Linked DNA regions of Homo sapiens. The protein of the gene in region 1 interacts with the protein of each later gene in a pairwise test. Each region holds a gene or a part of one and is shown in the gene's direction. Other genes may lie near its edges.

Evidence for each region.
Region 2: the proteins of HAPLN2 (region 1) and ZNF438 interact in binary tests that used the Homo sapiens proteins (3 or more experiments, as listed by UniProt).

Annotation. Positions count from the first base shown.
Region 1 is NC_000001.11:156,615,399-156,622,414, forward strand, and holds the start of HAPLN2 (hyaluronan and proteoglycan link protein 2 precursor), read left to right. Parts: upstream 1-4,016; 5' UTR 4,017-4,109; coding exon of another isoform or gene 4,110-4,137; intron 4,138-4,570; coding exon of another isoform or gene 4,571-4,760; intron 4,761-6,481; exon of another isoform or gene 6,482-6,530; intron 6,531-7,016. UniProt on the Homo sapiens protein: Mediates a firm binding of versican V2 to hyaluronic acid. May play a pivotal role in the formation of the hyaluronan-associated matrix in the central nervous system (CNS) which facilitates neuronal conduction and general structural stabilization.
Region 2 is NC_000010.11:30,846,835-30,853,871, reverse strand, and holds part of ZNF438 (zinc finger protein 438), read left to right. Parts: intron 1-3,504; coding exon 3,505-5,341; intron 5,342-7,037. UniProt on the Homo sapiens protein: Isoform 1 acts as a transcriptional repressor.

The DNA of each region.
Region 1 (7,016 bases):
AATGCTGGAAAGCCAGGCATGGGGGTGCCCGCCTGTACTCCCAGCTAATCAGGAGGATGAGGCAGGAGAATCACTTGAACCCAGAAGTTTGAGGCTGCAGTGAGCAATGATCACACCACTGTACTGCAGTTCTGAGTCACAGAGACAGATCCCATCTCACTCTCTCTCTCTCTCTTTTTTTTTTTTTTTTCAGACAGAATCTTGGTCTATCGCCCAGGCTGGAGTGCAGTGGTGCGATCTCAGCTCACTGCGACCTCCGCCTCCTGGGTTCAAGTGATTCTCCTGCCTCAGCCTCCCAAGTAGCTGGGACTACAGGCACGCATCATCATGCCCGGCTAACTTTTTGTATTTTTAGTAGAGATGGGGTTTCACCATGCTGGCCAGGCTGGTCTTGAACTCATGACCTTGTGATCCGCCCACCTCGGCCTCCCAAAGTGCTGGGATTACAGGCATTAGCCACCGTGCCCAGCCAAATCCCATCCCTTAAAAAAATTTTTAGAGATCCTATCTCTTAAAAAAATTTTTAGAGATCCCATCTGTTAAAAAAAATTATTAAAAAAATGTTGGAAAGAGAAAGACCAAAGAGAGCCATGCCTTTTAAAGTCCTCCCTAAAGTGTCATCTTGCCAGCCCTTCCAGTCATTCACACAACAATCCTAGTCATAAACTGGGGCCATGCTTGCCATCACCAGGGGTCAGGAAAACTGGCCAGCTGAACCTGCTTGGATGGTGGAAGCGAGTGTGGGTGTTAGAGAAGGAGATGTCGGGACTCCGTGCTTGTCTGGAATCACTCCACCACACTCTGGTCAGTAGGTATAGGACTGACAAAGCCCTTCCTCAGAGATGCTGGGTCAGTGAGGAGACCCCAGCTTGTCTCAGCCATCTCACCCCACTCCCATTTTAGCGTCTGGGGGGAAACTGAGAATGAAAGTGACCTTGAGTAAACTAAACACAGTTTGGCTATTCATTATATGTATTCCTGTCTGTTCCTTTCTCATTCTGTCCTCACTGGGTTGTTTTTGCATCTGTCAAATAGTTCTAGGCTTTCCTCCCCATCAAACTCAGCCTTTTATGGATTTACATACCAGAGACTTCCAAGCCACAGTTCAGAAGTGATTTGTGGAGAAAGGAACAGTAAATTTGTGGAGAAATGAGCCTGGGAATGGATGCAGTGGCCAGGCTGTGGAGCCATTTATATCTACTTCTCCCTCTGCCGGAGGCTGTTTGTTTGAGTTGGCAGGAAGCCAATCAGATGCACTGGATCAGGGTGTCCTGTCCAAGGAGACAGGGGGCTATTTGTCTTCTCTCATGAGAGAGACAGTCGTGGGAGGAGGAGGGAAGCGCTTAAGAACAGGGATGGAGTAGATAGGGAAAAGATAGTCAATCAGATCTCTCAAGAGTATAGTCGGCCGGGTGCAGTGGCTCATGCTTGTAATCCCAGCACTTTGGGAGGCCAAGGAGGGAGGGTCACTTGAGTCCAGGGGTTTGAGAGCAGCCTGGGCAAGATAGGGAGACCCTGTCTTTACAAATAATTTTTAAAAGTTAGCTGGGTGTGGTGGTGCACATCTGTGCACCAAGCTACCTGAGAGGCTGAGGTGGGAGGGATCGTTTGAACCTGGGAGGTCGAGGCTGCAGTGCGCCATGATCGTATCACTGCACTCCAGCCTGGGTGACAGAGTGAGACCCTGTTTCAAAAGAAAGAAAGAAAGAAAGAAAAGTATATTCAAGGTGAGCTTCCTATTATTAGATATGGCCCAAGTGAAAACCTGGAGCTTGTCTGAATTGGACAGCCAAGGAGAGAGGCAGAAGAGGATTAGTGGAAAAAGCAGAAACTTCTAGGCTTGACTCAATGACTGTATTGTGCGTGATTTGGGGCAAGCCACCTTCCTCTCCATCTCCTCCTCTAGTAAATGTTCAGCATCCTGAGGTCTCCAGTTCTGAAAGGGTATGGTTCTTTTTTTTTTTTTTTTTGAGATGGTGTCTCACTCTGTTGCCCAGGCTGGAGTGCAGTGGCACGATCTCAGCTCACTGCAACCTCCTCCTGGGTTCAAGCGATTTTCCCACCTCAAGCCTCCCGAGGAGCTGGGATTACAGGCGCACACCACCATGCCTGGCTAATTTTTGTATTTTTAGTAGAGACAGAGTTTCACCATGTTGGCCAGGCTGGTCTCGAACTCCTGACCTCAGGTGATCCGCCCACTTCGGCCTCCCAAAGTGTTGGGATTATAGGTGTGAGCCATAGTGCCCAGCCTCTTTTTTTTTTTTTTTTTAACTCACAGAACATGAAATTATATGGTTTTAATAATGCAAAGCTACTTCCATGGGGCTACAGCAGAGAGAAAATAAGGCTAAAATGGAACTTAAAGCTCAAAACATTTCTACATGGCTGTTTACAGGGGCAGGTGGAGGGAGTCCTCCCTCTGCATTAATAGAAAACAAAAACAATTGGGCCTATTCGGCATTGTTGGAAATGTTCTATGTCTTGATCTGGTGGGTTTTTACCTGTGTACAATATATGTACACACGTAAAAATTCATTTAGCTGTACACATAATTTCTATGACTTTTTTGTATGTAAATTATACCTCAATGGAAAGGTTTTAAAATGGACTTAATTAGGCCCAGCATGGTGGCTCACGCCTGTAATCCCAGCATTTGGGGAGGCTGAGGTGGGCGGATTGCTTGAGCCCAGGAGTTCAAGACCAGCCTGGGCAACATGATGAAACCTCATCTCTACAAAAAAATACAAAAATTATCTTGGCGTGGTGGCGCACGTCTGTAGTCCCAGATGCTCTGAAGGCTGAGGAAAGAGGAGGATGGCTTGAACCCGGGAGGCAGAGCAGAGGTAGCAGTGAGCCGAGACTGCGCCACTGCACTCCAGCCTGGGTGACAGAGCCAGACTCTGTCTCAAAAAAAAAAAAAAAAAAAAGTTAATTAGACGGGTGTGGTGGTGCGCGCCTGTAGTCCTAGATAATTTCGAGGCTAAGGGGGAAGATCTCTTGAGCCCAGGTGTTCGAGGCTGCAGTGAGCTATGATTGGGCCACTGCACTCCTACTTGGGCAACAGATAGAGGCCTTGTCTTAAAAAAAAAATTTTAAAAAGGCCGGGCACGGTGGCTCACGCCTGTAATCCCAGCACTTTGGGAGGCCGAGGCAGGCGGATCACCAGGTCAGGAGATCGAGACCATCCTGGTTAACACGGGGAAACCCCGTCTCTACTTAAAATACAAAAAATTAGCCGGGTGTGGTGGTGGGTGCCTGTAGTCCCAGCTACTTGGGAGGCTGAGGCAGAAGAATGGCATGAACCCGGGAGTCGGAGCTTGCAGTGAGCCAAGATCGTGCCACCGCACTCCAGCCTGAGCGACAGTGCGAGACTCCGTCTCAAAAAAAAAAAAAAAAAAAAAAAAAAGACTTGAGAGAAAGTGAATTTCCATCCAGGAAGATTAAGGATCCCCTTCTGAGTACTTTAAAAAGGTTATCTATTTGTGCTGAGGGAAGAGGTAGAATATTAGGGAACCAATAAGATAACTTCTCTTTTGGAGAGGTTTCCAAAGTCCTTCTGTCCTCAGAAATTCTCATGTTCCTCCCCAGGGACAGAAAAATCCTCCTTGCTGTCTAATCTCCATCTCTCCTATTGCAATGCTAGCCACTCCCTCTGCCCTCATGGAGCCCAGCCTTTCCCCTGGCCTCAGACAAAATCTCTTTAGAGCCCTGTAATTTGGAGTGTTGAGAGAGATTCCATTTCAACCTTTTCACCATCCGTTCTCTGCCCCTCACCCTATTCTCTTCTTCTTGGGGATGTCAATTCCTGTTCTGAGCCCGCCCCCCACCCAGGCCCTTTTCCGGTGGTATGTGCCAGCCGGTCCTGCATCCCACATCCCCAGCTGTTGACATTTCATTGCCATTACCCACAGAATAAAGAAAGGGGCCCTGTTATTCAACAATAGGGGAAAAGACAGAGACAATGGGAAATTGTGCTTCCGATGGGGTGGGGACTGAGAAGGAAAGGACAGACAGACAGACAGACAGGGGGTTGTACAGAAGAGGTCCGGTTTCTTGAAGCAGCTGGAAGTCCTGGATAGTTCCCACCTGAAAGTCTGTTTGCAAAGGCAATGCGCACTCAGGCACCAGAGGGCAGAGGTGAGTACTCTGTTGTGGGGAGAGGGGAGATGGGGATGCTGCTTAGATGAGGCGCATATGGAAAGGGAGGCAGCTCGAGCTTGGCAGTTATGGATCTTTGAGCCACATTTAGAGTTCATCCCCATCCCCATCAGTCCAACACCTTCATATCCACCGATCAATCTACACCTCTCTGGTTCAAAGGCATCGAGAAAAAATGAAGCACCTCACTTTCTGCACTCTTCCAGGTCATCATTCCTGGGTTGCTCCCTTTATTCCACTCCCCTTCATGGGTTCCCAGCCCTCATCCCAACCCCAGCATCTTCCCCTGGTCCCGGAATAGTGATTTCCACAGATATAGTCACAGGGCTGGACACAGGTCTCTTAACATGGCTTAGTGGACTGATGGGGGTGGGGGTCGTTCTTGGCACCTTGGCTTCTTCTTTGAGCACAGGACAGAAGCTTTTCCTCAAAGGTGCAAAAGGAGCAACTGTGTTGAACAGGGGCTCAAGTTCCAGGGTTTTAAGGTGCTTGGAACTCCCAGGAGCCTGGCAAACCTTCATCCAGAACCTCTTCCTCAAGCAAGACAAAAAGCTGCTAAGCACTGCTCCCTCCGTCTCTGTGAAGAGACCAGCTTCTAACAGGTAGGCAATGGGCTGCTGACTACTCTCATTTTCTGTAAGAGGTATGAAGAGCATGTGTGTGCACTGTTTTGAAATGCAGAAATATAGATTAGTGATTAAGCGCTTGAGCCTCACTGTCAGATCTGTATTCAAATCCCAGCAAACCCTTCCTCTTACTAGCTGTGTGACCTCATTTCCTAAAATAGGTGCACCTTGGTTTCAGCATGTGTACAGTAGGATTTATAATTGTTTCTGCCTCAGGATTGCTGGGAGGAGTAAATATAAAAATATACATGTAAAGTGCTTAGAGCAGTGTCAGGCACATTCAATTTTAAACGTGTTCATTTGAGCTATCATTATTGTTGGTCTCAGTCAATCTCAGTCCTCACGATCATTCTTACTTATCAAGTTCTCCTATAAAGAAGTGGTTCTCTTGCTCATGTTCGCATCCCAGATACTTTCACCTTTAACCACTGAGAAGTTTTCTATGCATAACCTCCGTTTCTCCTACTGCAAACTGGTCTTTGGTCCTCATTTGCAGAAAGATGGAGCTCCATTCTTTAGATTTCTGGCAACTTCTCAGGGTGCTTCCTCCATCTCCCCATTCCCCATCCCATCTTCCCATGAATCCTTAATGTAAGTTCATTAAACCATACACACTTATTTAGCACCTACTATGTACCAGAAACTATGCTGGGAACTGGAGATAACAGCTAACACATAGACAGCACTTATTACATTCCAGACACTATTTCAAGCATTTTGCGTATATCAATTTATTTATTCCTCACAACTACTCAGTGAGGTAGGTGTGCTATTATTCCCCACATTTCACTGATGAGGACACTGAGGCAGAGAGAGGTTAAGGAACTTGTGCATGATAATTAACTTATGCATAGTCATGCAATTAGGAAATAGAGTAGCCAGATTTGGAAAACGAATGCAGTGAAGTCAAGAAGTCTTCATTTTTTTTTTTTTTTTTTTTGAGACAAGGTCTTGCTCTATCCCCTAGGCTGGAGTGCAGTGGCACAATCTTGGCTCACTGCAGCCTCCACCTCCTGGTTTCAAGCGATTCTCCTGCCTCAGCCTCCCGAGTAGCTGGAATTACAGGTGCATGCCACCACGCCCAGCTGAATTTCGTATTTTTAGTAGAGACAGGGTTTCACCATGATGGCCAGGCTGGTCTTGAACTCCTAATCTCAAGTAATCCACCCGCCTCAGCCTTCCAGTGTTGGGATTACAGGTGTGACCCACTGTGCCTGGCCCAGTCCAATTTTTTTTTTTAAGGTCAGAGGGATAAGAATGATACAATAGGTGCTGGAGGCGATGGCTCACACCTGTAATCTCAGCATTTTGGGAGGCCAAGGAGCGTGGATCACCTGAGGTCCGGAGTTCTCAAGACCAGCCTGGCCAACATGGTGAAACCCTGTTTCTACTACAAATACAAAAATTAGCCCGGAGTGGTGGTGGGTGCCTGTAGTCCCAGCTACTCAGGAGAATCGCTTGAACCCGGGAGGTGGAGGTTGCAGTGAGCTGAGATGGTGCCATTGCACTCCAGCCTGGGCAACAAGAGTGAAACTCCCTCTCAGAAAAAAGAAAAAAAAAAAAAAAAAGAATGTTACAATAAAGGAGGAGCTGGGTGCAGTGGCTCAAACTTGGGAGGCTGAAGTGGGAGCATTGCTTGAGCCCAGGAATTGGGCAACCTAGTAAGACCCTGTATCTGATTAAAAAATTTTTTTTACCGGGAGGTGGAGCTTGCAGTGATCCAAGATCGTGCCACTGTGCTCCAGCCTGGGCAACAGAGCGAGACTCCATCTAGAAAAAAAAAACACAAAACAAATTTAAAGGGGGGAATAACTACAGTACTGAAATAGATAATTGCATTTGAAGTAGTTTTTAAAAATAACTTTATAATTTTATATTTTTTAACTTCATAATTTCTGTATCTATATGTGGATACATATTATGTTCAAATTCACACTGTTAAGTTTAGGTGCTAATAAAAGTACTTGTAAGACAAAAAAAGTCCTGGCTGGGTGTGGTGGCTCATGCTTGTAATCCCAGCATTCTGGGAGGCCAAGACAGATTACTTGAGCCCAGGAGTTCAAGACCAGCCTGGGCAACATTCTGAAACTCCATCTCTACAAAAAATAGAAAAGAAAAAAATTTAGTGGGGTTTCATGGTGTGCGCCTGTAGTCCCAGCTACTCAGGAGGCTGAGATGGGAGGATGGCTTGAGTCTGGGAGGGCGAGGCTGCAGTAAGCCATGATCATACCA
Region 2 (7,037 bases), on another chromosome or scaffold:
AGGCACTTGCCACCACACTCGGCTAATTTTTGTATTTTTAGTAGAAACGGTTTCACCATGTTGACCAGGCTGGTCTCAAACTCCTGACCTCAAGTGATCTGCCTGCCTTAGCCTCCCAAAGTGCTGGGATTACAGGCATATGCCACCATGCCTGGCCATAAATGGAGCATATGTTCTAGAGAAAATGAAACAGGAAGAGGGAGCAGGGAGTTCACAATGGGATATAGTTTTAAATAAGGTCATCAGAGGAGATGCTCGTTGAGAAGAAGCCATTTGTGCAAAACCTTGAAGGAAACGATGCAGCAAGTACTGGGGATTTACTGAGGGAAGAGTGTCTTGGGTGGGCGGGAGTAGCCAATGCTCCTCCCAGCCAGGAGCCTCCTCTCAGGAGGTGCATGCCCAGAACAGCAAAGAGGCCACCATGGCTGGAGTGGAGCAAGTAGAGGAAATATGTCAAAGAGGCTCCTGAGAACCTTTTTAAGCATGAGGCCTTTTAAGCCATTGCAGGGATTTTGGCTTTACTCTGAGATGAAGAGCCATTGGACAGATTTGAGATGAGGAAGTCATAGATCTTGTGCTATGATGTGTTATTGTCACATATTCTTTCAAGAGGGTGAATTACTAAGCCTTTGTTCTAGCTCATCTTGCGGTAAATATTTTCTGCCCAGTTAGGAGGAAGAACTAGTGATAAATGACCCAATATTTTCTCTTCTCTTCCTTCCACACCCCAGATCTGTTGTGTAAATGCAAAGAACATTATTACTGTTAATGTAATTATTTATTAAGCCACATCTCTAAGTAACCAAAAGCCATCAATAATTTTAGGCTTTCTGCAAAGTCTCTCAATCCTGATTTAAAGTGTTTATTTATGACTTATTTTGGTACTTCTTCCAAAAAAAAAAAGATGAGAAGGTGAGGTTTAAAATGAAAAACATTTAAATTTAAAGGCTATGAAAATAAAACTTAAAAATTAAAATTATGTAGGAAGAAGTAGCAATCCATACAGATGACTATTGTCAAGTGATTTACCACTCAATTTACCCATAAGCGGAATTCACGGTAACCAAACTCAGAAGGAAAACAACAAATAACATAATTATCTTTGTCTGATTTTTCCAGACAATAGCACTCACTAGTCCTTGTACTTCTTACTCTCGTGCAGGCTATCCTGTGAACTTATGTTTCATAATGTCCTTTTTCTTTGCAAAACAATTACTTTCTAAAAATAAACTGGTCAATATAAATTTCACCTTATTTCTACTAGGTTGCTTGTTTATTTAGGCGGTGTCATTTCTGCTGAAAGAATCAACTTCCTGCTAAAATTGTTAATTCACTCACTGTAGGCATTAAAATCAAGGTTGACGGGCCGGGCGCGGTGGCTCATGCCTGTAATCCCAGCACTTTGGGAGGCCGAGGCGGGCAGATCACCTGAGGTCGGGAGTTCGAGACCAGCCTGACCAACATGGAGAAACCCTGTCTCTACTAAAAATACAAAATTAGCTGGGTGTGGTGGCACATGCCTGTAATCCCAGTTACTTGGGAGGTTGAGGCAGGAGAATCACTTGAACCCAGGAGGCAGAGGTTGCTGTGAGCCGAGATCGCACCATTGCACTCACCTAAGCAATAAGAGCAAAACTCCGTCTCAAAAAAAAAAAAGAAAAAAGAAAATCAAGGTTGATGTTACATTTTCTTTTCTTTTTTTTTTGAGACGGAGTCTCGCTCAGACTGTTGCCCAGGCTGGAGTATAGTGGTGCGATCTCGGCTCACTACAACCTCTGCCTCCAGGGTTCAAGTGATTCTCCTGCCTCAGCCTCGCCAGTAGCTGAGATTACAGGCATCTGCCACCATGCCTGGCTAATTTTTTTTTTGTATTTTTAGTAGAGACAGAGTTTCATCACGTGGCCAGGTTGGTTTCAAGCTCCTGACCTCAAGTGATCCGCCCATCTCAGCCTCCCAAAGTGCTAGGATTATAGACGTGAGCCCCCGTGCCCAGCTGATTTTACATTTTCAATTGTCTGTTTCACTAGATTGTCTGCTACCTACCTTGTATCCTCTAACAGATAGTGTTCAGTCCCCTACCCCCAACTCTAAAATCTAAAAAACTCTGAAAACAGAAGTTTATGAAAAGTTGTTACAAACTCATTCAGAAGCAAAAACTTGAACTGAAATAAAGACAATTTAAAAATCTTCATTTGTCCAACTTGCGAATATTTGCATGTTTTGCTACAGAAGTGGTAATAGGTTCAATTATGGGTGCCCTGCAGATTCCGCTGGGAGTTATGTAACATTTAGTACACGCATCTTACTACTTTTCCAAAATTTGAAAATATAAATTCCAAACCACATCTTCCTCCAAAAATTTCAGAAAAGGGATTGTGGACTTGGCAATAGCCAATCCTGGGATAATGATTGGAATAATGTAGGTGCCTAGTAAATGTGAATTGAAGTTTGATTAATATGAGATACTTAGAAATTAGAAACATTTCTGCAGCCAGGTCTTGTGACCTTGAGACCTCAGAGAATAAAATAGATAATTCAGTCTTTAGAAGCAGGACACCAAAATGTTTCCTTAATTGTTCTCTTAAGGTAGTAGTAATTGATCTTAGGTCAGGCTAATAAATCCAGAAAGAATGAAGTGTTACCCTATCAGTCAAAATTGTTCCTATTAGTATCCTAGAAGGTGCTTTTTATGCCATTCACATATTTTGCATGTTGTCTCTGTATCTGTACTTATCACTTTGTATCTTTCTGTTTTTTGTTCAACATTTTTTAAAGGTGTCACATCAGCTTTTTTAATACTGGTGATTTAATTGCAAAAGCACACATAAACAGTTTGAAAGGTGTGAGAAGAAATTCGTAAGTCACATGGGGAAACAGCAACAAAGCTAGCATTCAGTCTGGAATGCATCCACTGTGCAAAACAAATTCAACTGCCAGTGGGTCAAATGGTGTATCCTGAGATTGAGTGAAAAATGAGTTTGATACAAGAAGCGCTTGTTTTATACAAAGGATACAGTGGGAAATATCAAGATGAGATGAATATAGGCTGTACCCTCACAAAGCTGAAGCTTAATAGGGAAAGCAGAACATGTATATAAAATAATAAACTACATAGCAGAACATACCAGACATCATGTGAAGATGAGTGGGGATAGGTTAAATGGAGAGGATGGACTTGCAGAATACATGGATGAGAAGGACGGAATTTTCGCTGTCAAGCAGTGTTGACTAGTAGAGATACACATAAACACATAAATTATTATGGAAAATGGTAAATAACATAATAGGAGCTAAGGAACCATAGATAAGTATAGAAATCCTTGGGGAAGGTAGGCAGGAATTGATCTTCAAGCTGGTCTTGAGGGACACAAGATTTTGCCCAGAAGGCTTGGAGGTAGGTCAAGGAATCTGTTCTGGGCAGAGTAAATAAGATGCTTGTTGTTTGAAGTATCACTAACAGAACAGTTACATACAGTAACTCTTTATATTTTATTGTCATTGCAGGTGAATCAAACATCCCTTCTGGAACAATACAGAGTAGGAAAGGTTTGCAGAATAAGAGTCAGTTTAGGACCATTGCACCAAAAATTGTGCCCAAAGTCCTAACGTCCAGAATGCTGCCATGTCATTCACCATCACGCTCTGATCAGGTGAATCTGGGACCCTCCATCAACTCCAAGCTGCTGGGGATGTCCACCCAGAACTATGCCCTGATGCAGGTTGCTGGCCAGGAGGGGACATTTTCTCTTGTTGCTCTGCCACATGTTGCCTCAGCTCAGCCAATTCAGAAACCCAGAATGTCCCTACCTGAAAACCTGAAACTTCCTATTCCTAGATATCAACCCCCTAGAAATAGCAAAGCATCAAGAAAGAAACCCATCCTGATCTTTCCTAAGAGTGGCTGTAGCAAAGCTCCTGCCCAAACCCAAATGTGTCCTCAGATGTCCCCTTCCCCACCTCACCACCCTGAACTCCTGTACAAACCCAGTCCATTTGAGGAAGTACCATCACTAGAGCAAGCCCCAGCCAGCATTAGCACAGCTGCGCTGACCAATGGAAGTGACCATGGGGACTTGAGACCACCAGTGACCAACACCCATGGCAGTCTGAACCCTCCTGCTACCCCAGCATCATCCACACCAGAGGAGCCTGCCAAGCAGGACCTCACAGCTCTTTCAGGGAAAGCACACTTTGTAAGCAAGATAACATCTAGTAAACCTTCTGCTGTTGCCAGTGAAAAATTTAAAGAACAAGTTGATCTTGCAAAAACCATGACCAATTTATCACCAACCATTCTTGGCAATGCAGTTCAGTTGATCTCTTCAGTCCCCAAAGGGAAACTGCCAATCCCACCCTACTCAAGAATGAAGACAATGGAGGTTTACAAAATCAAATCAGATGCTAACATTGCAGGTTTTTCTTTACCAGGACCTAAGGCCGACTGTGATAAGATACCCTCCACCACAGAAGGCTTTAATGCAGCCACCAAGGTGGCAAGCAGGCTACCTGTTCCACAAGTGTCACAGCAGAGTGCCTGTGAAAGTGCCTTTTGTCCACCCACCAAACTTGATCTTAACCACAAAACAAAACTGAACAGTGGAGCAGCAAAGAGAAAAGGAAGAAAACGGAAGGTACCAGATGAAATTTTGGCATTTCAGGGAAAAAGGAGGAAATATATCATTAATAAGTGTAGAGATGGTAAAGAAAGAGTAAAAAATGATCCCCAAGAATTCAGAGACCAAAAGCTGGGGACCCTGAAAAAATACCGTAGCATTATGCCCAAACCTATCATGGTCATACCCACTTTGGCCTCCCTGGCTTCTCCAACTACACTACAGTCCCAGATGCTTGGGGGCCTAGGACAGGATGTTTTGTTAAATAATTCACTCACTCCTAAATATCTTGGCTGTAAGCAAGACAACAGCTCTTCCCCTAAGCCCAGCTCCGTGTTCAGAAATGGATTCTCTGGCATTAAGAAGCCTTGGCACAGATGTCACGTCTGCAACCACCACTTCCAGTTCAAACAGCACCTTCGAGACCACATGAATACACACACCAACAGACGCCCTTACAGTTGTCGGATTTGTCGCAAGTCCTATGTACGTCCTGGCAGCCTGAGCACACACATGAAACTTCATCATGGTGAGAACCGTCTGAAGAAACTCATGTGTTGTGAGTTTTGTGCAAAAGTGTTTGGCCACATCCGAGTCTATTTTGGCCATCTGAAAGAAGTGCATAGGGTTGTGATCAGCACTGAGCCTGCGCCCAGTGAACTGCAGCCAGGAGACATACCAAAGAACAGAGACATGAGTGTGCGAGGCATGGAGGGATCATTGGAGAGGTGAGTGCCAATGTAATGGAGACCTGGCAAGAGAGTCTGTTTTGATTTGGGGAAGAGGGGAAGATTTCATATTCAGAAAGGAGAGTTTATAAAACATCTCTAGGATTAAGATTTCATAAAGTAGCTATGTATACCTCCTAGATCTGTGAAGAATGATCTTGTTTCTCTCTGGTTTCTGATCATCCATACTTGGAATTACCCTAACCAATCTAGTAAAGTACTGTATATAGTTCCAGTGGTCTTTACAAGTAATTTCCCCCAAAATCACATCCACAGAATTTGCGTTATTTTAAACAGCATCATTTGCCCCAAAATGCGGCATGACCCATGGTTGGGGACTCAGAGTGGGTGGGTCTGTCATGTTGACCCTACCTTAAGGTGCCCAGACCCCACCCTCTTCATTTGCCCTGTTTTTCCCATCAGTTCGGGTTCACTCTTTCTGGTGTCATTCCTTTTTGCAAGCACTGCTTCCTGGTATTATTGCTATGGGATCCTTGGGGTGTCATTTCACCAGCCGGAAACCTCTGTGGCCAGTGGCGCCTTGGCCTGAGTTTTGCTCTGGCCCATTAGGCTCGTTCCACCCACTTGGAACCTAGCAGGCTGCACTCAGCTCATGCTACCGGCCTAGATCCCATGCCTGCCAAGGGCGAGCCAGGCACAGAGTGGTGAGGGATGTGTGAGTGAGCGTGGGGTCTGGCCACTGCGCATAGGCAGGCACGCCGGCTGCTGCTGCAGGCCAGGCAGCTCCAGGTGCCACCTCCTTGCAAGGCTGTGGCTGGACCAGGCACATCACAAGCAGCTTCCACGGTTGGCACCAGGAACATGATGTTGCCCAGAAGCTTGGAGACTAGGGAGTCACTGCCCTGGCTCAGGGGGCTCCCAGGACAGAGCTCCCCAAAGGGCCGCAGCTCTTCTCTTCACCTGCTGTGTGGCAAGCAAGAGGCGTGTTTCAGCCTGTTTGTGTTACAGCTCTCTTAGCCCCACCATTTGGCAGGTCTCAAGTTCTTGTCCTGCGTTCAGGAAGAATGAGGTACACAGAGAAGTAGAGGGTGAGCAAGATGAAGAGGAGCTTTATTGAGTGATAGAACAGCTCAGAGTTGAACTGCAGGGGGCAGTTCCTCTCTGCAGGCAGGTTTTCCCCGTCATCTCTTGTGCTCTCAGCAGAGAGGGTAGCTCCTCTCTGCCACTGGTCGTCCCATTGTCTCTTCAAGTCTGGCTAAGTCCGGGGCTTTTATGTGCCTCAGAGGAGAGGAAATGCGTGCAGTTGGTCCATGGGCAGTCATGGACAGACCCAGAAAAGCACCACAAGTTCCCACTCCAGTCCACATGACTGGCAACCTGGCCCCCAGGCTTCAGGGCTTCTCTGGCTTGAAGGTGGGGCTTCACCGGGGACCTCCCCTTTTCTGCCCAGGAGCTTCTTTGCTCCCTGCTTCTGTTTATGGCACCCAGGCTGTTCATGCTGAGGGGGCACCTGCAGGCTGGCACCGAGCTGTCCTGAGCACCCCTTCCTCAGCCTCCCTTCCATGCTTATTGGCACCCAAAGTCTGGAGCAGGCCAATGGGGTAGGAGGTGGGCATATCAGCACTGCCTCAAGCGTGTGCACACCCAACCAGGTTACAGCAGAGCCCAGGCTCAGCCCCAGCCTTGCTTTGAGATTGGAGCAGGTGCTGACAGCAGGGAGAAGCCAGGCAGCAGG